Linked DNA regions of Homo sapiens: region 1 is linked to region 2. The links come from fine-mapping of genetic effects on gene expression. A gene starts in region 2. The other region holds a variant in brackets. All regions are shown on one strand. Distances are from middle to middle. Region 1 overlaps SLC60A1 (solute carrier family 60 member 1). Region 2 holds the start of ELK4 (ETS transcription factor ELK4).

Region 1 (12,105 bases), 27 kb before region 2:
TCTTTGCAGTTCAGGATTTTGATTCTAGTCCAAATCTTTTTTTCAAAAAGAAGTCCTTCAGGCCAAGTAGCAAAGAAAGTCTCCTTCAGGGCACAGACACCTCCTAAGAATAGTCTCCCTTCTAGAGACCCCAGGCAGGGGGAGTCCCAAAGCAATTTTCATAACCCTGAGCCCTTACCTGCCCTTTTGCCCACTGCTTTCAAAGTGCCCAGGGACTGCATCGGCTGTGTGCAAAGCCAGTTCTTAAGAGAAGGTGCCCAGGCGGAGACTCTGTCCTCCCTATAAAAAGCAAAATCATCACAAAAAGACTAAAGGAACAGGCATTCACCATCCGCTCTCAGTGGGTGAACATATCTACGCTCTAAACGCTCAGTACAAAGGCCCAGAAGGAAAGGTGGCCCCCAAAACAGCACTAACTATAGCCTCACTTCTGAGACAGCAGTACTGGTTGCACACACACAGGAGTTTCATTTAAGACCTACATTCAATTAATATTTGCTGAACATTAAATGAATAACACTTAATGGGCTCCTTATTCATGGGAGACAGACACATTCCCCAAGCCCTAGACAGCAGTCTCAGGAAACTGCCTCCACCAACTGTTCGCCAGAACTAGGGGGTCTGACTTTTCACTTTGCTCCCTCTAGAGCCACAGAATGGCAGAGAAACAAACAGCCTGGGTAAGCTCTCAGAATGAATCATCACTGCAACTCATCAGAGCTGCTGAAACATGCTACCTGTTTTGTTTTTCTTTTGTAGTTCCTACCCAAGACAGATCAATTGGAATGGAAAACTCTGAGTGCTACCAGAGGTAAAACTGGGTGAAGAAGGCAAGAGAAGACTTTCAGCCTCTTGATCACCAGCACGACCATACTGTTTCAGAAAGCTGGGTGGTGGTGGAGGCGCTCTCTCAATGGCTATTCAAGTCTTCTCCACTAAAACTTGGTTGGGTAGAGGAAATTAAATTGAGTCCTGGTACCTGGTCAAAATCATTAGAAGTTTACCTGGCTTCTCAAGTTATCTTCTTCCCTGGTTCAGACTGTTGGTAAGAGCTGTCCAGATACCCAGATGGGAAGGAAGGAGACAGCCGCGCGCTTCACTCCATTTGTCACCTCATGCATGGACCATACTCTGGGTTTGAGATCATTCTTCATTGAAGTTTGTAAAAATAGGTTGAAATTGTAAAGCTCCATGATCATTGCTATATGTAGATATATTTCAATTTAAGCAAAACAAGCTGCAAGTTATTCCCTGGCATGCTCAAAGGATTTTCGTGCTTTTCACTTAATAGTCCAAAGTCTCTTAAATTCCTGCTGCAGACATCAATAGCTTATCTATATTCTCAAACACCAAAAGGAAAAGTTGAATCTTGCTCTCTTTGGTATACTAATGTAGTGGTATGCTAAGCTGGCTCATACCAACTTAGAAAAGCTGATTGTAAAATTTTCATTTTGACAGCTGGTTATTAAATGCAGCCATTATTAAAAATCAAATCATACAAACTTATAATTAAATCAATTACATTTAAAACAAAGGTAATAAATATTCAAAGCATATCACTTCCTAATTTGATCTTGATGCTCTTGAGGTAATTTACGTCCATGGTACCTGTGTGGTGGAATTACTATATATGATGGTGTGCTACTGTGCACCTTGTCTCAACTCCACTCTTCGTGATAGCATGTTGGTAGCTTGAAATCAGCCTGGTGGGAGTATTACCATGGACACTGGCAAAAGCTACAGATCCCGGAGAGCCAGTGGTTAAACATTTACCAGCATACCACTGCTAGTAATCAAGGCTAACTGGTCCAGAAATCGCCCAGGAGAATGAAATGGATGTTCCATTTTTTTCTACTGACATTGACTAGCATATAAAAGGTATAGAAACAGCACTAAGACTTTCTGAAAATACCTAATGAAAATTTTACATCTTTTTTTGTTTTTGTTTTTGTTTTTGAGACAGAGTCTCACTCTGTTGCCAGGCTGGAATGCAGTGGCGTCATCTCGGCTCACTGCAACCTCCGCCTCCCAGTTTCAAGCGATTCTCCTGCCTCAGCCTCCCAAGTAGCTGTGACTACAGGCGCATGCCATCACGCACAGCTAATTTTTTGTATTTTTAGTAGAGACGGGATTTCACCGTGTTAGCCAGGATGGTCTTGATCTCCTGACCTCATGATCTGCCCGTCTCGGCCTCCCAAAGTGCTGGGATTACAGGCGTGAGCCACTGCACCCAGCCAAAAATTTTACATCTTTTATAGAGGGAAAAAAACTCTTTATACCATGGCAAGGCCTTTTCTTTCACAAAAAGCTGGGCCTACTGAACAATTCAAGCTGTGCAGTAGTAGACTGAAAGCAGGATTTGTTGAGGAGTTACAGCTCCTGTCCAGAGCAAATCCTGTAGTGATACAAGGAGAATGTAAACTTGCCAGCTTAGACAGGGATCAGTCCTGAGACTGCTGGCAGTAGCAAATGGCTATTAGAGTAACTGTATAATGGTTTTGCCTGCACTTTCTCTATGTATATACAAATGTACATGTATAAATATAAAAATTAAGTGATCATGGTTCTTGGTAACCTGTCCCAAGTGCTGTGATTCACACGCCTGACACTAAAAGGTTCTTCCTGGTCCAGTCAGCCAGCTGTGACCACCAGCAGCACAGCTGAGTGCTGAGAATCTGGCTGGAAAGAGAAACGTGGCTCAAGTGCTGGCTCACCTTCTAGCTGTGTGGCCCTGGGCAGGTTACTGAGGCTCTTCCAACCTCACTTTTCACATGTAAAATGGCATTTCTAAAAGTACCTACCCTACCTCAAAGGAATTCTGAAAAAAGTAAGTGAATTTGTATAAAGCAAAGCACTCACAATATGCCTGACACACAAACTGCTTAATAAATGTTAGTAATTTTTAAAACCTCCTCATAAGCGGCTTAGAAATTATTCATGTTTGGTACATATTTATTGCAAGTCAAGCAGATCCAACTTTTTTGAAAGCTGGTGGTCTAGGAGTATAGTTTTAATTATATTTGTAAATACTCAAAAGTATTAGATGCCAGTCTAATTTAAATGCAGTCTGACTGTAGCGAGTAACTGACCTGGGCAATGAAAAAGCAGTTGTATTTTTCTTGTGGTTTTTCAAGAAAATATCCTTTTTATACAGATTTAGAAAGAAGAATCAATGGCTATATCGAAGTTGATTGTGACTAATTTGTTAATACAGAAAACAACATTAACACAAATCTAAGAGTACCTTTCCTAAAATAAAATATTTAAACTTATTAAGTGTGTTATCCATTATGAAGAACAATTGATCCTCTTGCATACACTCAGAAACAAATGGTCTGATGTTCCCCAGAGGCAGGTCTCTCTCATACTAATAAGTTAATGTGGCTTATATTTTAGAAGAAAGAAAACTGTCTCACAAGGGAAACTCTGAATTTTTTTAAAAAAAGATAAATAAATAAATAAATAAATAACCTCTCATAGCAGGGCTAAGTGCCACTATTCCCTATTACATAAAATCAGAATAAGGAATAAGGAAAAGGCAGGTCGATTCTTACACCACACGCTTCTCAGTTACACAAGTAGGACTTTCTTCCTCATCTTCCTTTCAGGAATTTGGACATTTCAGAATCCTGTGGAATCACCCTGTTCCCAGATTTTCCTCTGCTACTTGTATATGGAAATCTAACCCATCAGGCACATCGGATTCACTAAAAGAAGACACAGTGACATAGAGTTCTTTTAGAGTGAATTTCGTTTATTCAGTCAAAAAGGATTTGTTAAGCACCTGCTATGTTCAAGGCACTAATCTAGGTACAGACATACAGTGGTGACTGAGACAGAAGTCCCTGCCTCACAAGGATTATACCGCAGGTGAAGACATACAGACAGCAAACAAATACTACACGTAACATGCCACAGGGTGAGGGGTAATGTAGCACCATAGAGAAACATACATACAGGGAATATGGAATAGGATATGGGAATGCCACAGGGTGAGGGGTAATGTAGCACCATAAAGAAACATACAGGGAGTATGGAATGGGAATAGGGAATGTCAAGAGATGCTCTAGGGCCAGGCACAGTGGCTCACACCTGTAATCCCAACACTTTGGGAGGCTGAGGCAGGCGGATCACCTGAGATCAGGAGTTCAAGACCAGCCTGGCCAACATGGCAAAATCCTGTCTCTACTAAAAATACAAAATTTAGCTGGGCCTGGTGGTGCACACCTGTAATCTGTAATCCCAGCTACTGGGGAGGCTGAGGTGGGAGAATTGCTTGAACCTGGGAGGTGGAGGTTACAGTAAGCTGAGATTGTGCCACTGCACTCCAGCCTGGGTGACAGGGTGAGGCTCTGTCTCAAAAAAAAAAAAAAAAAAAAAAAAGATGCTCTGGAAGGCGTTTCTAAGGAGGTCCTATTTGTGTAGAAAACTAAATGATACGTGGGACCAAGCTATCCAAGTACGTGAAAACATCCCATCAGGCAGGGGGCACAGCAAGTACAAGAGCCTTAGGCTGGAATATGCTTATGGTATTGGAGGAACAGCAAGTAGGCTGGTGTGGCTCAACTGCAGTGAGGAAGAGTCAAACGGAACAAGTGGGAGTGGTTGCTAGAGGCCAGATCATACAAGCCATGGTATGTGTAGAGGTTTTTTGGAGTGATGTAAGATGACTGGAAGAGTTGTGAGCAGGCAAGCGACACGATCTGATTTACATATCTAAAGTATCACTGGTTACTATGGAAAAGAGACTATGGGGCAAGCATGGAATTGGGAAGACCACCTGGGTACCACTGCAATAGACTGAAGAAATAATGGTGGCTTGGAAATGTAGATAGCAACGGAAGTGGTGAAAGTGATTGGATTCAAGCAATATTTTGAAGGTGAAACTGACAATTTGCTGATGGATTGGGTGTAGTGTGAGAAAGATAAGAATCAAGGATGGGCCGGGAACGGTGGCTCACGCCTGTAATCCCAGCACTTTGGGAGGCCAAGGCAGATGGATCACCTGAGGTCAGGAGTTCGAGACCAGACTGGCTAACATGGCAAAACCCTGTCTCTACTAAAAATACAAAAATTAGCTGGGTGTGGTGGCAGGTGCCTGTAATCCCAACTACTCGGGAGGCTGAGGCAGGAGAATCGGTTGAACCTGGGAGGCAGAGGTTGCAGTGAAGTGAGATCACGCCACTGCACACCAGCCTGGGTGACAAGAGTGAAACTCCGTCTCAAAAAAACAAACAAAAAAGAATCAACGATGACCTGAAGGAATCTGACCTAAGTAACTGGGTACATGATGAAGCCATTTAACTCTGGAAGGCCATGGGGAGACATTCTGAGTTCTATTTTGGACATGATCATCTTATGATGCAATCTTGGATGTCAAGAAGGCTGTTAGATATAGAAGTCTAGAGTTTAAAAGAGAAGTCAAAGCTGAAGATACAAATTTTGTGGTCACATAAAGAAGTATTTAAAGTCATAGGACTAAAATGACACAAGCTAGGGAATGAATGTAGAGATGGACAGATTGAGCCCTGGGATTCTTCAACATCTAGAGTTTTAGAAAAAGAACAAGTCCCAGCAGCGCACATGAGAAAAGCCAGAGAAATAGGAAGTTCAGGAGAAAATGTGGTTTCCTGGAGGGCACATGAAGTGCATCTCAAGAAGGAGTTAAGTAATCAGTGCTGCCAAGAGGTCCAATGAACACCGAATGTCAACCACCAGATGTGGCAACATGTAAGGCAATATGACCTTGACCAAAGAAGATAGTTTTGGTTAATTATGGTGACATATTCAAAACATATGGTGGTGGCTCATGCCTGTAATCTCAGTGCTTTGGGAAGCCAAGGTGGGAGGATCATTTGAGCCCTGAAGTTTGAGGCTGCAGTGAGCCATGACTGTGCCACTGCACTTCAGACTGGGTGACAGCACGGTTGACCCCAAAACAAAACAAAAAACATGGGAACCATCCAATGGACTCCTTAACACCAATGCTTGTCAGCTGACTGGCACAGCTGTTTGAGTTTGCGCTTTTTTTTTTTTTTTTGAGACGGAGTTTCACTCTCATTGCCCAGGCTGGAGTGCAATGGCGTGATCTTGGCTCACTGCAACCTCCGCCTCCCGGGTTCAAGCGATTCTCCTGTTTCAGCCTCCCTAGTAGCTGGGATTACAGGCACGCGCCACCACACCCAGCTAATTTTGTATTTTTAGTAGAGACAGGGTTTCACCTGTTGGTCAGGCTAGTCTCTAACTCCTGACCTCCGGTGATCTACCTGCCTCAGCCTCCTAAAGTGCTGGGATTACAGGCGTGAGCCACTGCGCCCGGCCCACTCCTGTTTCATTTAATAAAATGAAGTCACTTTCATAGACTCCCTGCAGTTACAGGGGGTCGGTCGTCCAGTTAGTACAGTGTTTTGTAGCAACAATCAATGTGAAATCATCTAACTGTTAATTATTATCTCCTACCTGATAATGCCAACCCTGGAAAATTACCCAATATTAGGGTATTAGTTTGTCATTAAACGCACCTATAAAACACAGAAAGTGCTTGCAAAACAGGTAGGCTTCTCAAAATAAGTGTCAACAGTCAGAAAGGTTAGAAAACGGTGGTGACTTAAACAGGCTTTTTTTTGTTTGAGATGGAGTCTCGCTCTATCGCCCAGGCTGGAGTGCAGTGCCATGATCTCAGCTCACTGCAAGCTCCACCTCCTGGGTTCACGCCATTCTCCTGCCTCAGCCTCCCAAGCAGCTGGGACTCCAGGCGCCC[G/A]CCACCACGCCCAGCTAATTTTTTGTATTTTTAGTAGAGACGGGGTTTCACCGTGTTAGCCAGGATGGTCTCGATCTCCTGATCTCGTGATCCACCTGCCTCGGCCTCCCAAAGTGCTGGGATTACAGGCATAAGCCACCACGCCCAGCCTAAACAGGCTTTTTAACTGAAGGACTTGGCACTTTTCATATTCTGAAATTTCCTTTTGAATTTCCGTGAAGAACCCATTTCCCAAACTGATTTTACCTCGTGGGACTACCGTCGCAGTTGATACTCTGAGAGCAGTGTGTTAGGAGCATGCAGTAGTCCTCACTGTGCTCCACATGCTGACTGACCCACCAACCAAAGTGACATTTCACCCATTTCACCAGGGTAGTGAACTGCCCCCTTTGCCCCAGAACAATCTGTCACTCTATCCTCCTGTGATTTTCATTAAGAGATACGAAAACAGCTCTCTGCTGTCATTTTGCCACCTATAAACCCCACTTTTGGGCTGGTTACAGTGGCTCATGCCTGTAATCCCAGCACTTTGCGAGGCCAAAGCGGGCGGACCACCTGAGGTCAGGAGTTCCAGACCAGCCTGACCAACACGGAGAAAACCCGTCTCTACTAAAAATACAAAATTAGCCGGGTGTGGTGGCGCATGCCTGTAATCCCAGCTACTCGGGAGGCTGAGGCAGGAGAATCGCTTCAACCCAGGAGGCAGAGGTCGCAGTGAGCCGAGATCGCACCATTGCACTCCAGCCTGGGCAACAAGAGCAAAACTCTGTCTCAAAACAAAACAACCCACTTTCCCTTATGTATATTATTTTGACCCAATTCTAAAAAAGCCTAATTTCATTTGCTAAGTGAAGTCTACATTGCTTTTTACAAGGGCTAGATAAAAGCCTCTGATTTTTTTTTCTTTTTTTTTGAGATAGGATCTTGCTCTGTCACCCATGATCACACCAGTGCAGTGGTGTGATCTCAGCTCACTGCAACCTCTGCCTCCCGGATTCAAGCGATTCTTCTGCTTCAGCCTCCCGAGTAGCTGGGACTACAGGCACACCCCACCACGTCCAGCTAATTTTGGGAGGATTTTTAGTAGAAACAGGGTTTCACCATGTTGGCCAGGCTGGTCTCAAACTCCTGACCTCAGGTGATCCACCTGCCTTGGCTTCCCAAAGTGCTGGCATTACAGGTGTGAGCCACTGCACCCAGCTGATTAAATTTTTAAAAACCCTTTATTTTTCAAGTAAAACAAAAAGAGATTTCACATGGTGAATATTTTTTCTAGCCACTCAGTTCTCTCTTAATTCCTTTTATGTCAACAATCATTTTACAATCTCCCCTGTTCACCACCTATCTGAATCTAGACTTTAAATATTTTAATGTAGATACATATCAAATTGTTGAAGGCCAGATTTTAATGATAGCCATTGGGAAAACAACTCTTTCCTGACCCACAGTTAGCATGGATGAAAATGTAATACAGAGACTGTAAAGAGACCACCTCAATGAATGTGAGAGAAGGGAATAAATAATCAATTCAGAAAATCATTTTGTTAAAAATATTTATTTAAAAAAATACAACTGCTGTCCATATCTAGTTGCACATATATCTATTAACATATATGTATACTTTTAGACTTGTAGTAAATTTGCTACAGTGCTTTTGTAAAGCCAGCCTGCATTATACAAAGCAAATTCCTCTGTCAGTTCTTACATAAAATAGATTTTTAAAAATGTATATCTTTCCTAAAAGATGCATATCACCATTATAGAATTTAACAAAATTTTTGCATAAAACCTGGGAAGTGATAGAAAAAATGATCACCTGATTGGTCAGAGCAACCCCTTACTATGTCTGGAGATGCACTGAGTATCAACTACACATTTTTTTTTTCAAGCAGCATATTATTATAAAGCCCTCAAAGTGCTTTTGCATCCTTTCGCTCACCTCTCTACACTCTATAAAGTTTCTCTGCCGTATACAGATAGAATTCAAGACTCTAGCTACAATCATCCTAATCAATCTTAGAGCAATATCCCTTTGTTTCCCAACAGGTAAGTCAGACTGCTTAGCTAGGAGATGTGGCAGCTTCCCTCCAGCTGTTTCATCAACTAACATGAAGTTTAATAAATGTTAGCAGTGACCATTTTAATTGCTTTTTTAGGAAAAAGAAAAAAAAAAGGTGCTTTTAATACTTTGAAGGTGCTTTTTAGGTCTCCCTAATGTAAATTATGCTGAAATCAACTAAGACGAGCTATTATTAACACTTTAACAGTTATCCATTCCTCTGGGTAGGTGTGCACTTACATTATATGTAAGTATCTCTACAAAGTGTTAGATACTGGATATGAGATACAGATTTCAATAAAACAAGGGAAAAAATAAGCAATGAAGTAACTGTCTTCTCAGTTGAGCTGACAGGTTTGAAGAAAGCACTCTTGACATGTTCTTACTACCACATATCCCAAACTAAGACATACACATAAAATAACATATCTCTCCTGTGTTAACACTGATGGAGACGCACTGCAATAGTCCCATGGCAGACATATGCTTTTCTTCTGAATTACAGATTGGCTTAATGAAAATTAAGAGTTTATTATTAAGCATCTTTTAATTTTTAAGTGATGTTCATACTTGACGGTTCAGAAACTGCCACTGCCACTGTGGTTAAATCACTTGGTGTATGGAATTTAAAATAATCTAACCTAGAGCTATTTCCCATTAATCAAACTCATCCCTAATTGTCTCTTAGGAAGGTCTTCTTTAAAGAAGATCGAGTAGGGCTCATGAAAAATTATTGGTTTGTTCTTCAAAATGCAAAGTTACATACCCTTATTTTTTAGCCAATTTGATTATTTGGTAAAGCAAGGGCATAATTTTAAGAAACTAATTTTAATCAAAAATTTTTACTTGCCTCAAACTAAAGCTAACCAGTAGCAAAATGACTGGACTGAATTTCATATTTAATCTTCCCTGCCCACAAAGATAAATGAAACTGCTCAAAGGCAAAAATAAAGAAATATAATTGTGATTAGAAAAGATCCAGGGCCAAAACAAATAAATAGGCCTCAAGGAATAAAAAATTAATTGTATTCGTTTCTTTTCTATCTTTACATATACGCATCTGTCAATTTCACTAATACTGAACAGGGAAGTTCATAAAAATGCTACTCTACCACTTAAACAATAAATGTAAGCAATGAATGTACATACAAAGGCCACTGGTTAATACTGCCCCAAGTAACAAAACAATGAAATGTCAGGATTGTGTCCCCTACACAATAGACAATAAGCAACAATGACCAAACAGAAAAGAAACTTAAAATTGGATACTTTATAAATTTAAGTGTAATCTATCAATTGCAAATTATTTTTAAAAATCGTAAATTTCTACAAAGCACAATATTAAAAGCTTGCAAATTATTTTAAAATATCCTAGCCAAAAGGGCATACCTTACAGAGCCTAGAAGAATGGCTCATTAGGTAACCCATTTATCCCTTCTACAAACACCCTATAAATTCCAGAAAACATAAACAAGAAATAAACCTTACTTCTCTGACCCTCAATATCCTTAAGTTGAAATTAAACAAACAAAATAATCATTAAGTGCTTCCAGTTATTAAAAATGAAACAGTGCTAATATTGGTGCCCAAGAAAGTGCCAAGTGATTAACACCAATATATGGCATTCCCACCCCTGAACTTTAGGCATTCTTGAATGATTCCATTGGCTAGAACTCTGGGCCAGCCACAGGAAACCCCCACCTCCTCCCCGACCCCATCCAGAAGATCCCAGGCCTATGTGAGCATGACTCACAATCCTTGGAAGGGAAAAGAACCAGAAGGAGCCTTTATGAGATGGGAAACAAGGCAAAGTTGAGAAGATCATTCAGCCCAAGACACTCCACTCTGAGGTTTTGGCTAATACTAATGACATACAGTTTAAAAGGATAAATTAGGCCACAATACCAGCATTCCTCCACTACTGTATTCAATCCATGGTCGAATCTCTGTACTTTAGAAATACTGCTTCCAGTATAAACCTCCTCTTTGAGAAACTTACAAACTAATAAAGATTTTACACAAAAGCAAACATAAATGTAGAAATTTTAAGAAAGGACATCCTTATTTGCTCAATAATACATGAACCTAAGAGAACAGTTTACTATGACTTTGTTTAGAGTATGTCACATGTAAGCAGTGTATTTCTAAAATGTTGGTGAGCAATTCATCTTTAAGGCCTACTGAAATGTGCAAAGCATTAATCTTTTAAAAAGTGGCAACTGCAAAGTGCAGCAAATTTTTTTAAGTTTTAGTATAAAATAGACTAGGAGCCATCAATGTATGTTCCCTATGAAAACAGATTTACACGCGCACACACACACACACACACATTCAGTCAATACATCAGTATATATGCATACACATACATTTACTAGGACAATAAATCAGAATGACTTGGAAAAAGAAATGGTCTAGTCTCCCAATTAAATATTTCAAAGTAAAGTTTTCAACCTCATAAAACTTCCTGATGTGGACTATACTCAAATGATTAGCACTCAAGAGATTAACTATGTTTGATTGTATCCCTCATGAATTTTCTTGTTAAAAGTTTCCTTTAAAATTATGTCAACAACAGCATGAATTTCCTGTTTTCTGTAGAAAGCTTAGAGCCAGTATTTCCCCTCTCATACAAACCACTCTGGATTTTCATATTTCACAATAAGTAAGTGTGGATGGCAGCACCTTAGAAATTGCTATTTTCTGGCAGGCTATCAATCTATCATAATTTTTTTCAGAGAAGTGACTTGAAGAAACTGACAGTTTCAAATGAAACAATTATACTACCATTAACGATTCACCTTTCAGATTTGCTCGGCTTACAGGTCAAAACATGACTTGTATAGTAACAGGTTCCACCAAGTACAAGAAATAAAATCAAACCACCTTCTTTTCTTAATACACGACCAACCACAAGAATTCTAGATCCTAAGATTAAACTTCAACTTCAGTAAGCAGAGTTCTGATGACATAAGAGGAATAACAGGGCACTTTGTTTCAGGCAATGCCAGCAACATTAAAACAATAACAAAACATTTGTTGATCCCAAACCAAGAATATAATTCTATTTTCCACAGAACCCAGTCTCTGGTTAGAGTACCTGCTGAAGAAAGACAACTATGGCTGACCTCCACACTTCACTTACACTACTATGGACTGAACAATTAACTTCTCAATACTATTTTAGAAATAATATATTCTATCATAGCTTCAGATGACACACTACATCATGAGTAGTATTTTAACTTTCCTATTGGTTTGGTAATTCATTTAGAGCCCCAGATTTCTG
Region 2 (16,814 bases):
CTAAGATCTAAGCCCAGGCAATCTGGACCCAGAATCCAAACTCTTAAGGATGCCACGCTGCTTAAGAAATGTCTTAAGCAACAAGCAACTTGCAAGGAGGATAAAGCTAGTTCCCTAAATTATAGGAAAAAACAATGATTGTCAATCACTAGTGACTGTCAATCACTGTTGTTAAATTTGAATCCTAAAATCTCATTGCTGTATTCTCTCAGGAGACCACCATTCCAGCATCTGTCTAAATCAACCCGGTTTGGTTATCTGCCTGTGAGTGTATGTGTTTGTGTCTATCTCAGGGTGGCCCAGGGACTGAGGTGTAGGGAATAATCTACTTTTGCTCCAACTGGTTTCCATCACCATAAATGTCATTTACATACAAATTGGCAGCATTTTGAATTCAGCAAAGTGTTCTCTTTTCTGTCACTGTTCTGTCCACAGTGATTCCATCTGCAAAGATTCTCCTTTGATTAGCAATCTTTATGTGATTATCAAGGCATGGATTGAAGAAAAATATTTTAATATCTTAAGTTTCAGGATCTCCCTGTTTAGGCCAGAGTTTCTCAATTTTGGCATTATTGGTTTTGGGGGCCAGATAATTCTTTGTTGTGGGAAGCTGTCCTGTACACTGCAGTTTGTCTAACAGCATACCCGGCCTCTACCCACTAGATGCCAGTAGCACCGCCTGCCCCATTGAGACCATCAAAAATATCTCCAGACACTGCCAAATATTCCCCCAGGGGTCAAAGTCATCCCGGTAGATAACCATTGGTTTAGGCAAAGGAGCAGCAAGGAATGCTCTCTCATAAAGGTATTTTCCTCATACAATTTCAAAACACCTTTCTATTAGGAAGAATTCTTTAGGGCAGAAACTCTGGCCAAATCCGTATAAGTGTGTCCTAAGAATCTTATGATTGAATACTTCACACACACAAAAAAAAACAAAAACAAAAAACCTTCCTTTCTCTAGTAATGAGATCTCAATGGGTTAGAATAGAGTTTGAAAACAAATTATATCAATACCATTAAAACACTACAAGAACAGATCAAAACTGGACTACAACAAAATTTAAAATTGTTGTGCTGCAAATAATGCCATCAAGTGAGAAGACAATCCCCCAAATGGGAGAATATTTTCAAACCATGTATCACAAAGGGAGCCTGCATCCAAAATATATTAAAAAACGCCTACGACTAAAAAAAAAAAAGCAAAGAATTTGAAAAGACATCATAGCAAAGAAGATATACAAATAGCCAATAAACACACGAAAAAATGCTCTACATTGGCTGAATCTGCCTACTTGTCGCCACTATCACTGCCACCCACCTCCCGGCTCCCCCAGGTTCCTTCAGCCCAGCCTAGTTCAGCCGGGTTCCCAACAGGATGAAATTCGTGTACAAAGAAGAGCATCCGTTCAAGAAACGGGCGGCTCCGAGAGCAAGAAGACTGGAAAGAAATACCCGGACCGGGTGCCGGTGATAGTAGAAAAGGCTCCCAAAGCTCGGATAGGAGACCTGGACCAAAAGAAATACCTGGTGCCTTCTGATCTCACAGCTGGTCAGTTCTGCTGCTGCTGCTTCTTTTTTTTTTTTTTTGTGAGATGGAGTCCCACTCTGTCACCCAGGCTGGAGTGCAGTGGCGCAATCTGGGCTCACTGCAACCTCCGCCTCCTGGGTTCAAGCGATTCTCCTGTCTCAGCCTCCCGAGTAGCTGGGATTATAGGTGCATGCCACCACGCCCAGCTAATTTTTGTATTTTTAGTAGAGGTGGGGTTTCACCATGTTGGTCAGGCTGGTCTTGAACTCCTGACCTCATGATCCGCCTGCCTTGGCCTCCCAAAATGCTGGGATTACAGGCATAAGCCACTGCGCCCGGCCCAGTTCTACTTCTTGATCCAGAAGCGAATTCATCTCCGAGCTGAGGATGCCTTGTTTTTCTTTGTCAACAATGTCATTCTGCCCACCAGTGCCACAATGGGTCAGCTCTACCAGGAACACCATGAAGACTTCTTTCTCTACGTTGCCTACAGTGACCAAAGTGTCTACAGTCTGTGATGCTGCTACCCCTGAGCTGGAAGGGGGGTCTCATTCTACAGAGAGGTGGCCTCCCTTTCTTGACCTCCTCCTCCAAGCTCAAACACCACCTCCCTTATTCAGGACCGGCACTTCTTAATGTTTGAGGCTTTCTTTCCAGCCTCTCTTAGGAGGGGTAATGGTGGAGTTGGCATCTCGTACCTCTCCTTTCTCCTTTCTTCCCCTTTCTCTGCCCGCCTTTCCCATTCTGCTTTAGACTTCTTGATTGTCAGTCTCTGTCACATCCAGTGATTGTTTCAGTTTCTGTTCCCTTTCTGACTGCCCAAGGGGCTCAGAACCCCAGCAATCCCTTCCTTTTACTACCTTTTTGGGGGGTAGTTGGAAGGGACTGAAATTGCAAGGGGAAGGTAGGAGGCACATCAATAAAGAAGAAACCACCAAAAAAAAAATGCTCTACATAATTAGTTATTAGGGAACTAAAAATCAAAACCATCTGAGAAACCACTTCATGCCTACTTGGAAGGCTATAATCAAGACAGACAGACAATAACAAATATTGGCAAGGATGCAGAGAAATTGAAGCCCTTGTACATTGCTGGTGGGAATGTAAAATGGTGTAGCCACTTTGGACAAGTTTAATACATGACTCAACAATTCTACTCCTAGGTATATACCCAAAAGAAATGAAAACATACATCCATACAAAAACTTACACAGGACTGTTCATAGCAGAATTATTCATAACATCTAAAAAGTAGAAACAAACTAAATGTCCGTCAACTGATGAATGGATAAATAATATGTGGCACATTCATAATGGGGTATCATCCAGCCACAGAAAGGAATGAGGTACACACACACACAAGGACAAACCTTGAAAACATTATGCAAGTGACTAATAGAAGCCAGTCCACAAAAGACCACATATTGTATGTTTCCACTTATATGAAATGTCCAGAATAGGAAAATCCAGACACAGAAAATAGATTAGTAATTATTTAGGACTGGGGGCTAAAATGCGGGGAAGAGAAGTGGGGAATGATAGAAAATGGGTACAGGGTTTCTTTTGGGGGTGATGAAAATATTATAAACTTAGGCAGGGCGCAGTGGCTCACGCCTGTAATCCCAGCACTTTGGGAGGCCGAGGTGGGCTGATCACAAGGTCAGAAGATCGAGACCATCCTGTCTAACACAGTGAAACCCCGTCTCCACTAAAAATACAAAAAATTAGCTGGGCGTGGTGGTGGGCGCCTGTAGTCCCAGCTACTCAGGAGGCTGAGGGAGGAGAATGGCGTGAACCTGGGAGGCAGAGTTTGCAGTGAGCTGAGATTGCGCCACTGCACTCCAGCCTGGGTGACAGAGCGAGACTCCGCCTCAAAAAAAAAAAAGAAAAGAAAATATTATAAACTTAGATTGTGTTCATGCTTGCACAAAACCCACAGCATATTACACCTAAGGAGGTGAATTTTATGGTATGTGAATTATATCTCAATAAAGATTTTTAAAACAAACAACACAACAAACACTATAAAAGTTAGGTCTGGGAAGACTAATTCTAACAACATTTAACTCACAGAAGATGGGATTCTTAAGGGTCAACTATACCTACTTCCAAAAAGGGCAGAGATAAGAAACTGTAGTGGAAAATAGTTGGGTTTCTATAACTTTTCTGAAACACTCAAAATGTCCTCCAGTAATCCTCACGATTATCACTTTGAAGCTGGTTGTACAGAGACAGTCACCTAAAAGTAACGATGGGAAAATAATAAAGGATAGAAAGGGAGAGATGCTGCCCACAGTCAGAATTCATGGAAAAGCTGAGGCCATGAGTCCCAAGTCTCTTTCATCACAGTCATGTACTCTGTCCATTAGGGAAACCACTTTCCAAATAAATAAAAGCACTCATATCGCTAATTGATTGTAAAAAAGCATTACATATTAGATACCGATAATAATCCACAAATATGAAGTGCTACCTTAATGCCAAATAACCATGCCCGCTAGAAATCGGTTCCCCATAGCCTCACTTAAGCGGGGCTAAAATAGCGGTTTTATACTACGGCCATTAAGTATGGTGGAAGCAGGCAGGGATTCCCTGTTATGTCTCTTGAGTTTACCTGACAGGCCTTTCTTCTGATGATGCCTAATGATGGCAAGTTACCGTTCTACTACAGTTTTCCCACTTAAACAATTATTTCTAATCTAATCCTGTTAAAACTACTCTCTAGTAAATGTTATCTTAAGCCAAGAACTCAATTTCCACATTTCCAGACATCACCTTCATATAAGACTGCTTATAGGGGTGGAGTATGAATCCATTCGTGAGATGATGAAGGAAAGACAGAGAATGGGAGTCTCTAGCCTACACAGATGTGGTGCCTATTATTCCATTTGTTTTTGAAAAAATTCCAACACCCGGATCCTAGAGTCTTAATACCTATTATGTAGATAACATTTCAGCCCTACAAGTTTAAAGCCTCAGCTATACATCTAAAGACAAAAACAACAAATTAACGTCTCCATAATGAGCACCCAAGGAGACTCCCCAAAATAACAGGTGTTCCCCAGATGGTACAGGTTTAACTTGCACCTTCCCTGTTGGTTATCAGTGGAGCAGCATGTATTTAGTCAAACACTGGTGAGCTGTTGGCTGCTTTAAGGTAGAACCGAGCTGTTGTGGAAAATGCTGATGCTTATTTAGCAACTACAGTGTGTCTACGATAGAAGGTTGAGGACAGTAAAAAAAAAAAAATGGCTTTGGCCGGGTGCAGTGGCTCACGCCTATAATCCCAACACTTTGGGAGGCCGAGGCAAGTAGATCACGAGGTCAGGAGATGGAGACCATCCTGGCTAACAAGGTGAAACCCCCGTGTCTATTAAAAATACAAACAATTAGCCAGGCGTGGTGGCGGGTGCCTGTAGTCCCAGCTACTCGGCAGGCTGAGGCAGAATGGCGTGAACCCGAGAGGCGGAGCTTGCAGTGAGCCGAGATCGTGCCACTGCACTCCAGCCTGGGCAACAGAGCAAGACTACGTCTCAAAAAAAAAAAAAAAAAAGAAAAGAAAAAAATGGCTTTGAGGTTTTAGACTGAAGTATTAGAAATGAATTTTGAGAAAAAGATATAAAGTGGACATTTTCACTGGGTACTTTAAAGGAATATTTTATTAATTCAATTATGATATCGTTATTCTTTTGATTGAAAAGCAGCCAACGTCTTCTTACATAGTTAAGTCAAAACTCTTCATTTTAGTTTCAAAAAGTGTGGTATTAACAATGATCTTCAATGATTTCATCAGATATAAAAGAGAGCTGGCCGGGCACAGTGGCATACGCCTACCATCCCAGCACTTTGGGAGACCAAATCGCTTGAGGTCAGGGGTTCTAGACCAGCCTGGCCAACATGGTGAAACCCCGTTTCTATTAAAAATACAAAAATTACCTGGGCGTGGTGGTGGGCACCTGTAATTCCAGCTACTAGGGAGGCTGAGGCAGAAGAATCATTTGAACCCAGGAGGCGGAGGTCACAGTGAGCTGAAATCACACCACTGCACTCCATCCTGGGCGACAGAGCAAGACCCTGTCTCAAAAAATAAATAAATAAAATAAAAGCTAAAGAAAAAAAATCCCCTAAGACAGTTATTAAAAATTATGTGGTTGCTTCATGCCTGTAATCCCAGCACTTTGGGAGGCCAAGGGGGGAGCTTGAGCTCAGGAGTTCACGACTGGCCTAGGCAACATGTTGAAACCCTGTCTTTACCAAAAATACAAAAAATTAGCCGGGTATGGTAGTGCGTGACTACTCGGGAGGCTGAGGTGGGAGAATGGCCGGGAGATGGAGGTTGCAGTGAGCAGACACCACATCACTGCACTCCAGCCTGGGCAACAGAGTGAGACCTTGTCTCTAACAAAAACAAAAACACAACAAAACAAAACCAAACAAAACCTTTTATTCTTGTTACCTATCAAAAAAAAAAAAGAGGCTAATTACTTGATTTTCCTTCTTACAGGAATCCCGAGTTTTCCACAATTGCAATTTTTAAAGTTTAAAGTTATAACAAAGGAAGAAAACACTTAACTGGTCCAAATGAAGGTATTTGATTTTTGAGGGGGTAAAGGCTGAAAACATAATTGATTCTATTTTAACACTTCAAAGATAGACCAATCCCTGTCCTAAATTGAAAGGGAGCATGTTGAAGTAATGTATTAAGGAAAGGAAGTCTCTATTAAATAAAACCTTTTCCACCCTAAACATGTTTATAATACACACAGTCCAGTTGCTGTGGTGACCCATAGCCCAACTATTTTTCAGAGACAGTAGCTAAGACCCAAAAAAACACAAAGTCTCCAAATTTTCTTCAGCCTGCTACTTAAAAAACCAAGTTATGAATGTATCAAGCCTAGTTTCGAATCAAAATACTCACCGTTGTCAAAAAGTAACCAAAAGTAACATGACGTTTTTAACTACACAGGCTCCTAAAAAATACTCTTTGTATAGGATCCTGCACAGTTCTTACAATATTCTTACAATAAAACTTAAAGACACTACCTCACTAGGAATGAACAGATTCCACTTACGCAGTTTTAATGTTTAAGTAAAATCAAAGAGAAGAGTGTTCCTGAAGGGAAAATATTGAATCATACTACATTTTAATGAAAACACCGCTGCCAAACCTAAATATTGAAGCACCAAGTTTTCCAAGCCAGGGGGTGTAGGGGGTGGGAAAAGACGACAGAGGATCTGATCTATCAACCAAAGAGATGGACAAACCATTCTGATGAGGCATAGAACTCCAGAATCTTTATTTAAATTCCCCAAATTTCAAATAGCAATAGCTGGAGAAAAAGTGAAGTGTGTACTTTTGACTACTTCAGTCAACAACATCCCTATTTCCTTCCAAGGCCAGTTACTATCCCGCCCCGAAAGATGTTTCCAATTGATCTTCCCAGGAATGAAGTTACCAGCCTCGATGCAGCTGTGCACAAGGCGGAAAGTAAAGAGGGGCGGGGGGCCGCTGGAGCGAAAGAGAAAAAGAAATGAAACTCGACACCGGATGACTAGCGAGCTAGGGGAGAGGAAGAAACGCGGACGGCCGCGTGTGCCCTACAGGAGATCAAAGTCTGGGGGAAGAGGTGCAACCTCACCGGGCCTTGGTAAGCACTGAATTACTGTACTTTCATTTTCCAACTTCCTGTCACTACAGAAAATGAGAATTGCTCCCCTCCTCCCCATCCACGCCGAAAAAATCGCCGCCACCTTTCGCCCACGAGACTTCGGGGGACCAAGAGGCGACGAGAGCTGAGCGGTGCGCTGCGGCGTCCACCTGTGCGCCGCGGTGCCCGGCGGGCCGGGGGCGGACCCAAGGGGAGCGCGCGCGCCCGGCCCCGGCCCCCGCCCCCACTTCCTGTTGTGCCGCGCGCCCCTCGGCCCCCGCCCCCGCTCCCGGCCGGTGGGGCTGTGGCCGCGAGATCCCGAGGGGGCGCGCGGGGCTGACCGCTCACCGACGCCGCGCGCGGGGCTCCCCCTCGGTCTCCGCCTCGAACACGATGCGCCTCTCCGCCCTCAGCCTCCTCCTCACGCTGGAAACTCGAGGACGGCGCGGCAGCCGCTGCGACCCCCGCGGCGGAGCCGTAGAAGGCGGCGGCGGCCAAGCCGAGCCCGCCGGGTGCCCGCAGCCGCCCGCATCTCCCGCCGCCGCGGCTCCTGGCGCCCCGCCCTCCCCGCCCCCGCACGCGGCAGCGGCGGCGCGGGTCTTGGGGCCGCTACACGCCGGGCGCGCGCGTTCGGGGCGTTCCTTGCAGCGGCGGGGCCTGCCAGGCCCTCCGCGGCCGCCGCCACTCTCAAACCCCCCGACTGCTCCTGGGTCCCTCCCAGACGCCGTAGTCGCTACACGTCACTTCCGGGGGAGGGGCTGCGACCCTAAGGGGTGTCGTGAGCCGCGTCTGCCAGCAAACCCGGGTTTGGTGTGGCCGGGGGATGTAGCTCGGGCGCCTCCTGGAGTCGTCTCGCCGCTCTCCGTCGCGTTCGGTGCGGTTGCTTCCAGGTCCCTGAGGCGCCCGTCCGGAACCCGCCAGGACCCAAGCTGCCGCCTGGGCCGGGACCTCGGACTCCTCAAAGGCGCGCCACTTTCTCCTCGGTTGGAGGGAAGAGGTGGCGCTCGCAGAGCAACCTGCGGGGGACCACTTCTGTTGGTGCTAAGCTTTGGGGAGAGTCTCCTCCCTCCTGTGTCCCTCGTCCTCCTTACCACTCGCTGTTAGAAGTTGGGGCCGTCACAGCTTTCTCATCGAAGTGCCAGATCCCAGGACACTACAAACGCTTGATAAATACTAAATTAGCACTGTGGCTTTCTAGCCTGGGGACTGACAAATGGAAGCGCTGGAGTCGTGGGAAAAGCTTGCCCTGACGATGGAGGCAGCGACCAGAAATCCATTCGTGGCTCTACCCCTCACTAACTCACCAATTTTAAGCAACCTTAACCTCTCTAAAACAGTCATCATTTATAAGGTGGAGAGAACCCAATCTTAGAGTTGTTGTAATGATTAAAGAAAATAAGGTGCATGAAACACCTAGCAAGAGTTTCTAGCTTAGAGGTTCTCATTAAGTAAAATTCTTAAGGAATCAGGTCACACTTGATACAAGAGGCTACTTGAGCAGTTTAGCACCAGAAGGAATGTAAAGTCATAAATTAGGACAGCTGAACAAAACCTCCAAGAAATAAATTAGGTGTTTGTTTAACAAGAAACCAAAGAGAGGTCAGTGTCTGAGTTACTGGTTATTCGAGGCCATTTACTAGCTGTGTGACCTGTAGTGAGTTGCTTAACCTTTCTGGACCTCAGTTTCCTCATGTAAAATGACGATAATGAGCAGCATTGCTGAGAGGATTAAATGAAGTATAGAGCATAATGTACTTAGTGCATTACCTAGCACATAGTAGATACCCAGTAAATCGTGGTGTCATTTATTTTTGCCCCCACAATTGAATGTATAGTTAATTGAACTCACTGAGTGAAATGTGATTCTGTCATCCTTTTGTAGGCTTTTGGAAGAGAATCATCACTTCCTTGATTTCCAGCCTCCTCTTCCATAATACAGAGTAATTATAATCCACAAAGGTAGCTATTCCTGTAAAAACAACTCTACCAAAAGATGTTACCTTTCCAAAATTAGTTTTACCAAAGCATGCAAACATATTAAGACATGTTTTATAAGGAACATGCAGTATCTGAAAAGCACTAGCAGTCTTGGCCCCTAACATAAAATTTTCCTTGCAACAAGTTCCATCTTGGAAACCAAGAAAAAAAAAAGTATTAAGGTAGGCTGTTTAGGATACACCTATTGGAAACATTTGTTTATAAAAAGATTTCATTTTAAAGCCCCCTACCAAGAACAGTTAAGGGTTGTGGAGATCTGCACACTACGCTGCTCTGTTCAAACTGGCAGTAAACATCTGATTCGGCCTTAGGGCCAGTAGTTGTGTCATATCCCTTTTAGACTGAGCTTACGGCATTGTCAATTGCAGTGTATTTTTGGAAAACAGCCTGCTTTGGGAGTTCTTAAATTAGTCATAGCAAATCTGTCTGCTTTTAAATTGACTTTTTTTTAAGGCGGTACATATTGACAGAAGAGAAAGGAAGAAAAGTGGATTTCTAATTAGAGAACTTGAGGGGAAAAGTTAATTAATGTGCCTGGTTTTCCCACTCAAGATTCTATAAATACACAATCTCTCTCCATGGTTCCTCACACAACAGATGGTTCTGTTTGTGCAAACTCCATGGTAGTTACGTTGGTCAACCAAAAAGACTGCTTTTTCGTTATCTTGTTTGGTCACTTTCCCACCAGATAGATGGATTCCTGATCTTAGCCTTAGTTACTCAGAGCCATCCCAAAGAAAATTTGTAGATTTTATTACAATGTTTATTTATTTTTTTGAGACAGAGTTTCGCTCTTCTTGCCCAGGCTGGAGTGCAATGGCGCAATCTCGGCTCACCGCAACCTCCGCCTCCCGGGTTCAAGCGAGCCTCCTTCCTCAGCCTCCCAAGTAGGTGGGATTACAGGCATGCGCCACCATGCCCGGCTAAATTTTTTTGTATTTTTAGTAGAAATGGAGTTTCTCCGTGTTGGTCAGGCTGGTCTCGAACTCCTGACCTCAGGTGATCCGCCCGCCTCGGCCTCCCAAAGTGCTGGGATTACAGGCGTGACCCATCACGCCTGGCTTAAAATGTTTAAATATGTATTTTCTACCTGGCCTGCCCTAGATTTTGTTTTTTGTTTTTTGTTTTTTGTTTTTTTTTTTGAGACAGAATCTCACACAGTCACCCATGCTAGAGTTACAGTGGCACAATCTCGGCTCACTGCAACCTCCGCTTCCCGGGTTCAAGCGATTCTTCTGCCTCAGCCTCCTGAGTAGCTGGGACTATAAGTGTGCACCACCACGCCCAGCTAATTTTGGTATTTTTAGTAGAGACGGGGTTTCACCGTGTTGGCCAGGCTGGTCTCAAACTCCTAACCTCGTGATCCGCCTGCCTTGGCCTCCCAAAGTGTTGGGATTACAGATGTGAGCCACCGGGCCTGGCCTAGATTTTTTTTCTTAATCACTGCAGTTAACTCAGCTCTGCAACCCCTTGCCCCTAATTTAATTACATTTCCTATCCCAATAACACCTAGTTATGATCATTACTTCTCAAGGCAACTTCCTCTTCCCTCTCTTTATTTCACTGCTTCATCATTACTCCCAGTCACTATCCCTTTTTCCTAAAGAAGTGTTTCACGGATTTTTGACTGACTAAGCAAGCATGGAGCCATCCAGTTGCCTGTTACGTCTTTCAAGCAATATCCTGTAGCACGTGACATTAAGAAGAGATATCTTTTAAGTCAAAGACAGCACCCACAACCCCAGGTGGGGACAAGTGTGGAGCAAATTGCAACATGACTGAGAAGAAAGAATAAAAATCTGGGATATCTGGGTTCTAGCCTTTGGGTCTCCCTAAACTCAAAACTTGAACCTCCTGAGAAAATCCTTGCGACTTACCCTTTCTGGGTTTCACTTTCAACATCTTTAGAAATAAAAGAGACATACCTTTCACTTCATGTCTGTAATGGATAGACTAAAAGAAAAAGGCAGTAGGCTGGTTGTGGTGGCTCACACCTGTAATCCCAGCACTTTGGGGGGCTGAGGCAGGTAGATCACCTGAGGTCAGGAGTTCAAGACCAGCCTGGCCAACATGGTGAAACCCCATCTCTGTTAAAATACCAAAAAAATTAGCCAGGTGTGGTGGCAGGCACCTGTAATCCCAGCTACTCAGGAGGCTGAGGCAGGAGAATGGCTTGAACCCGGGAGGTGAGGGTTTCAGTGAGCTGATACCGTGCCACTGCACTCCAGCCTGGGTGACAGGAGCGAAACTGCGTCTCAAAAAAAAAAAAAAAAAAAAAGCGGTTGATCAAATGATGCTTTGAACTCTTGGTAAATAGCCCTATTGCTGTTATATTTGTGTGGACTGAGATCTTAGATAGAGGTAAAGTTATCTTTGAAAAGAAAACTCTGGCTAGCTGTATATTGAATCTGGCAGCACTGGCAACCCCTACTACCTGTTAAGGTCCTAAACTTTACCAAATATAACCAGTAAACGTTTCATCCCCAATAATAAGGCTTTTAATCAGAGGGTATTAAGGGTCCGGAGAAAACCCAATCTGAAGGTCATTGAACAAGGTACTTGTGGCCTCTAGACTGTGAAGTAAACTCATGGCAACATCTTTCAGGACTAGCTGTAATCTCCACACAATACATTGTTTTTTCAGAGAGGACATGACGAGACATGAGTTATTGCAATTACCGCCTGAGGCATAGCAACTGTCTAATATGTTTGATGACCTGTCACAAACACAGGTCAGAAAATAGCTTCATATAATTTTCATTCTTGATCTCTACACCCAGTCTACTTATTTTCTTTTAATATTTTTAACCTCAAGTAATTTTATTGGTCTTTGATAAATGTATTATTTCTAGACTTATAAAAATTGATATGGAATATGTAATAGAGAAAGAAGAGAGAATATATCAATTTTTTTTTGAGACAAAATCTCACTCTGTCACCCAGGCTGGAGTGCAGTGATGGGATCTCGACTTACTGCAACCTCTGCCTGCCGGGTTCAAGCGATTCTCCTGCCTCAGGCACCTGAGTAGCTGGGATTACAGGCGTGTGCCACCATGCCTTGCTAATCTTTGTGTATTTAGTAGAGACGGGGTTTCGCCATGTTGGCCAGGCTGGTCTCAAACTCCTGACCTCAGGTGATCTGCCCACCTTGACCTCCCAAAGTGTTGGGATTACAGGCGTGAGCCACCTTTGGAAAAGGTGTTCCTTAATTGATAAAAGCTCATGAAATCTGCCTTTTGTATAATTGTTTAAGATTCTGGTGTTTGGACCAGCTCCTTGCAGAATACATATTGCTCTGAATTTTAAGCCAAAATAATTTTTCCTCTCTGGTGTATTTTATAATCACTGTCTGGAAAAAAAACTTCTTCAATTAAAGTTAATTAAGGAAGCACCAATATATGATACTATGCTGTTATTACAGAAGAAACTCAAAGAGCATTTGCTCTTCTAGGAATTCTGAGTCTTGAATTGGCAACACTGACACCCTCAGCGACCATCATTGCTGTCCACGACTTCCAGCATTTTCAGAATTCTTTTGCTATCCCGTTGACATGAACAAAGAATTCAGCTAAGGATTCAGAAATGATGGGAGAGGCAGTCAGGCTGACAAACGAAGATATAAGTGCAGCTCTGAGCAGGGTTTTGTGTTGTGAGGGAAGTAAAATGAGGGTTTGGAGAGAGTAAAATTACCACCTCCCACTGCATTAAAGAACATTTCCTGGAAAGGGTGGAGTTTGAAAGACTTGGTGCTAATTCAAAAAGATGGAATGCCATCTTTTTTTTTTCCTTGCTTTATATATCCAGCAGCAAAACAAAATTGTTCTGCTGTGCTAGAAAATTTGGCTTGTGAGTCGTGTACACAACTCAGGAGTGTGACACAGCTACCAGCTTTCCTCCTAACTCTCAAGGGAAGAAAATTCAAGTTCTGTCTAGGCTCACTCTGTAAAGTGGGAAACTTGCTGGTTTTGTAGGCTTTTTTTCCCCTTCTTTCCCTCTCTCAGCTTCTCCCTGCTTCTCAGAAGATGGAGTTGTGATGCCTGCAACTTACCAAATTTATCTATGAATCAGATTCCAGTGGGAGACCCCTAAAGCAGAGGGAGAATAAGGAGTTCTCCCCATGATGGAAAATATCCAAAGACAAGGTTTCATGGAGCAAAGAATTCTGGCTAGATTTGGTTTGTAAGTGGATCCCTCCCCACTGTGTGTACACTTTATCTGTCTCTTTGCTTCTTCCCCACCCTCTTTCCCAGCTCTCTCTCTGTCTCTCTCTTGTTCCCTGACCCTTTTTTCTTCCTATGCATACTTTTTTCTTTCCCTTTTTAATCTCTATATCTTAATCCTACCAATGGCCCTCTGAGAATTTATTAGCCATGATAGGGATTCTTAGGCCTGAGATTTCTTATCAAAAAATATTTTTAAAGCATTAACCGTGTGCTGAGCTCTGTGCTGGATACTTTAGGAGATTCAAAAATAAGACCAGTCTCTTCTCTTCAGAAGTTTCCAGTAGATAAAGGGGTAACATCACTATAATATAGGAAAGAGTATTTAGTGGAGGTAAAAACTACGAATGTTGAGAGTGTTGAGAGTAGGGAGGAGAAGATCAGGAGAATCTTCGTGTTCCCACCAGAGAACCAACCTGACCACTCCAGGGTATGGTATTCAGGCATTTGGCCTGAAATGTCTTCTTCTTTACTCTCTCCCATCTGACTGTCTCCTACTTTAGGGCTCAGCTTAGATGTCCCCGATTCCAGGAAGTCCCCTAACACCCTAAACTAGGTTTGGGACTTTCCAGTGTCTCCCATCATGTCCAGTACTGGTCCTTGCAGCACTCTCCACACTGACTTGAAGTTTCTTACTTGTCTCTTCAAGTGTTGGAAATGAGTTCTGGAGAAGAGAGCCCAGGTTGTTTACCTTTGCAGCACAGTTGCAGAATAATCCCTGCCCCAGGAGTGGCTCAGTAAAGGTTTATTGAAGAGATCATCCAGGAAAAGGGAATGGCATGGCAGAGCTCAGAGGCACAAACTGCCTGGCATAGAGATTTGCAGCGTGGCTTGCGCTGGAGTCCGTTTCGTCTGCCTCTCCACGGCCTTTGCTTCACCCACTACTGCCTCTCTTACGTTCGGCCTCTCACCTCCCTCTCCTTCTGCTAGTAAACATGCTCAAGTCCCACCCATTTAGAAAACTTCCCCCTTCAAGTATTAGCCTTTCCTTCTCTTTAGTATCAAACTTCAAAAAATAATGGTTTCTATCTCCTGCCTACCCATCCTCACCTTCTGCTTACTCTTCAGCCCGCTGAATCTGTCTGCTGTCTCCACCACTGACTTTTCCGTAGTAAAGGCTACAGCTATCCTGATTGCCAAATCTCACATTCCCTTTTCAGGAACTGTCCCGTTCGCCATCTTCGGCTGTTCCTCAAGACCAGTTTAGATGTTGCCTCCTTAGGTACACATCCCTGACCTCCAGAGCAGACTTAGCTGTCCCTTCCTGGCACCCTCTCGGAAACACTCTCTTCTCTTGGCCTCTGTGATTCTTCTATCTCCCTAACCAGTTTTTGTCTCTCTTTTGGGACTTCTCTTCTACCAGCTCTGAAAGAAAGTTCTGTCCTTGCTTCAGGTTTCTATCTTCGGCCTGTTGTCCTTCAACACACTCCCCATAAGGGACCCCATTCTCTCCAAGCCTTCGTTCATCACCCAGATGCTAATGAGCCCTAACCTTTATCCTGTCTTCTGTGAACTCTGGATCCGTTTCCAGTGTCCTACAGGATTTCTCCACCTGAATGTCCTCATGACACTTCCATCTCAGAATATACAACTTGAACTCATTACTTATACCTGCCACACCAAACCCTTTCCCAGTTTCAGTTGATCCCCTTTCCCAGTTTCAGTTGAAAGCGTTACCCAGACACCTCAGTCATCCTCAACAATTCCTTCTGCCTCACCCTCCACAGACAATTGGTCACCATGGCCTGATGCATGTACCTCTAGAATATCTCACATTAATCTGTTCCTCATGCCTGTCCCCAAGGCTCTCATCATCATCTCTCTCTCTTTTTTTTTTTTGTTGAGACAGAGTCTTGCTTTTTTTGCCCAGGCTGGAGTGCAGTGGTGCTATCCTGGCTCACTGCAACCTCCGCCTCCCAGGTTCAAGTGAGTCTCATGCCTCAGCCTCCAAGTAGCTGGGATTACAGGTGTGTGCCACCACTCCCAGCTAATTTTTGCTTTTTTTTTTTTTTTGGTAGAGACAGGGTTTCACCATGTTGGCCAGGCTGGTCTTGAACTCCTGGCCTCAAGCAATTTACCCACCTTAGCTTCCCAAAGTGTTGGGATTACAGGTGTCAGCCACCGTGCCCAGCCTGTCATCATCTCTTGCTAGGACTATTGCAGTAGCCTTCTAATTTGTCTCCCAATAACAAGGCAATCCAGCCCATCCTCCACATTGCCACATGGAAAATTTCTGAAGTACACATTTGATTGTGTCACTCAGCTGTTTTAAGAGTAGCCAGTGATTGATTTCTCTGCTGCTTCCAGGATCAAGTTCAAACTGTAACCTGAAAGACCTGTAAGCAGCAAAGTTTAAAGGCCATATCACCTTCCACTGTTCCCTACTTTCACCTTTCACTGTCTAGCTCTTTTTAAGCCTAATCCCCTCCTTCATAAACTATATCCCCTGCAAACACATAAAGCATTTTCAGGACTCCAGCCTTTTGTTTATATAGTGCTCTCAGCCTGGATTGTCTCCTCTATCCGATGAGATTCTGAAAAACTAAATGCTGTGTCAGTCATCTCTGTATATCCAATGGGTCCTTGCCCAATGCCTGGCATAAAATAGGGACTTAGTAAATTTTGAATGATTAATTCCCACTTCAAGGAAGACTCAGCTCTCAAATGTTATTTCTTCCCTGCTTCCCCTGACCACCTCCCACCTCTACCCCATTAGATGTGATTGTTCTTCCTGTGGGAATGTTCCTATTTATTTAACAAATATTTTGTGAGTTCCTGCCATACACCAGGCACTGTGCTAAGAAAGAGGAATATAAGATGCTTTCAGGGCCAGGCACAATGGCTCATGCTGGTAATCCCAACACTTTGGGAGGCCGAGGTGGGCAGATCAGTTGAGCCCAGGAGTTTGAGACCAGCCTGGGCAACATGGCAAAACCCCCTTTCTATTAAATACAAAACTTAGCTGGGCATGGTGGCATGTGACCGTAGTCCCAGCTACTTGAGAGGCTGAGGTAAGAGGATCACCTGAGCTCAGGAGGTAGAGGCTGCAGTGAGCTATGATAGTACCACTGCACTCCAGCCTGGGTGACAGAGTGAGACCCTGACTCAAAAAAAAAAAAAAAAAGAGAACAACAAGACATTTTCAGTTAAGGGTAATAGACTGATAAGTAATCATTTATAGCACTGTATGAATTTGACTTCTCTAGGAAACTCATATAAGTGGAATCATTAGTATTTGTCTTTTTGTGACTGGTTTATTTTACTTGGCATAAATGTCCTCAAGGTCCATCCATGTTATAGCAGGTGTCAGAATTTCCTGATTAATACTAGAGACTCACTTTTATAGCATACCTGTTTGTTTTGCCTAATTTTTTTTTTAATAGAGTCTCACTCTGTCGCCCCGGCTGGTGTGCAGTG

What was found. PIP is the estimated chance that this variant, and not a neighbour inherited with it, causes the effect.
Region 1: its variant is fine-mapped to the expression of ELK4 in tibial nerve (GTEx, PIP 0.93).

What each region holds. Positions count from the first base shown.
Region 1 is chr1:205,599,647-205,611,751 of GRCh38, forward strand. It overlaps SLC60A1 (solute carrier family 60 member 1), which reads left to right. Exons shown (of 10, transcript NM_181644.5): 10 at 760-3,272. The coding sequence ends at 815. It overlaps ELK4 (ETS transcription factor ELK4), which reads right to left. Exons shown (of 5, transcript NM_001973.4): 5 at 8,297-12,105. Among named protein-coding and RNA genes, the nearest start is that of ELK4, 26 kb to the right of the region's middle. RefSeq lists an enhancer at 319-1,518. The variant G/A (reference allele first, on the strand shown) is at 6,761.
Region 2 is chr1:205,624,105-205,640,918 of GRCh38, forward strand. It overlaps ELK4 (ETS transcription factor ELK4), which reads right to left and starts at 7,907. Exons shown (of 5, transcript NM_001973.4): 1 at 7,528-7,907. It also overlaps the pseudogene LOC100420878. RefSeq lists enhancers at 4,682-4,951, 6,955-7,374, 7,985-8,294 and silencers at 7,385-7,574, 7,665-7,814.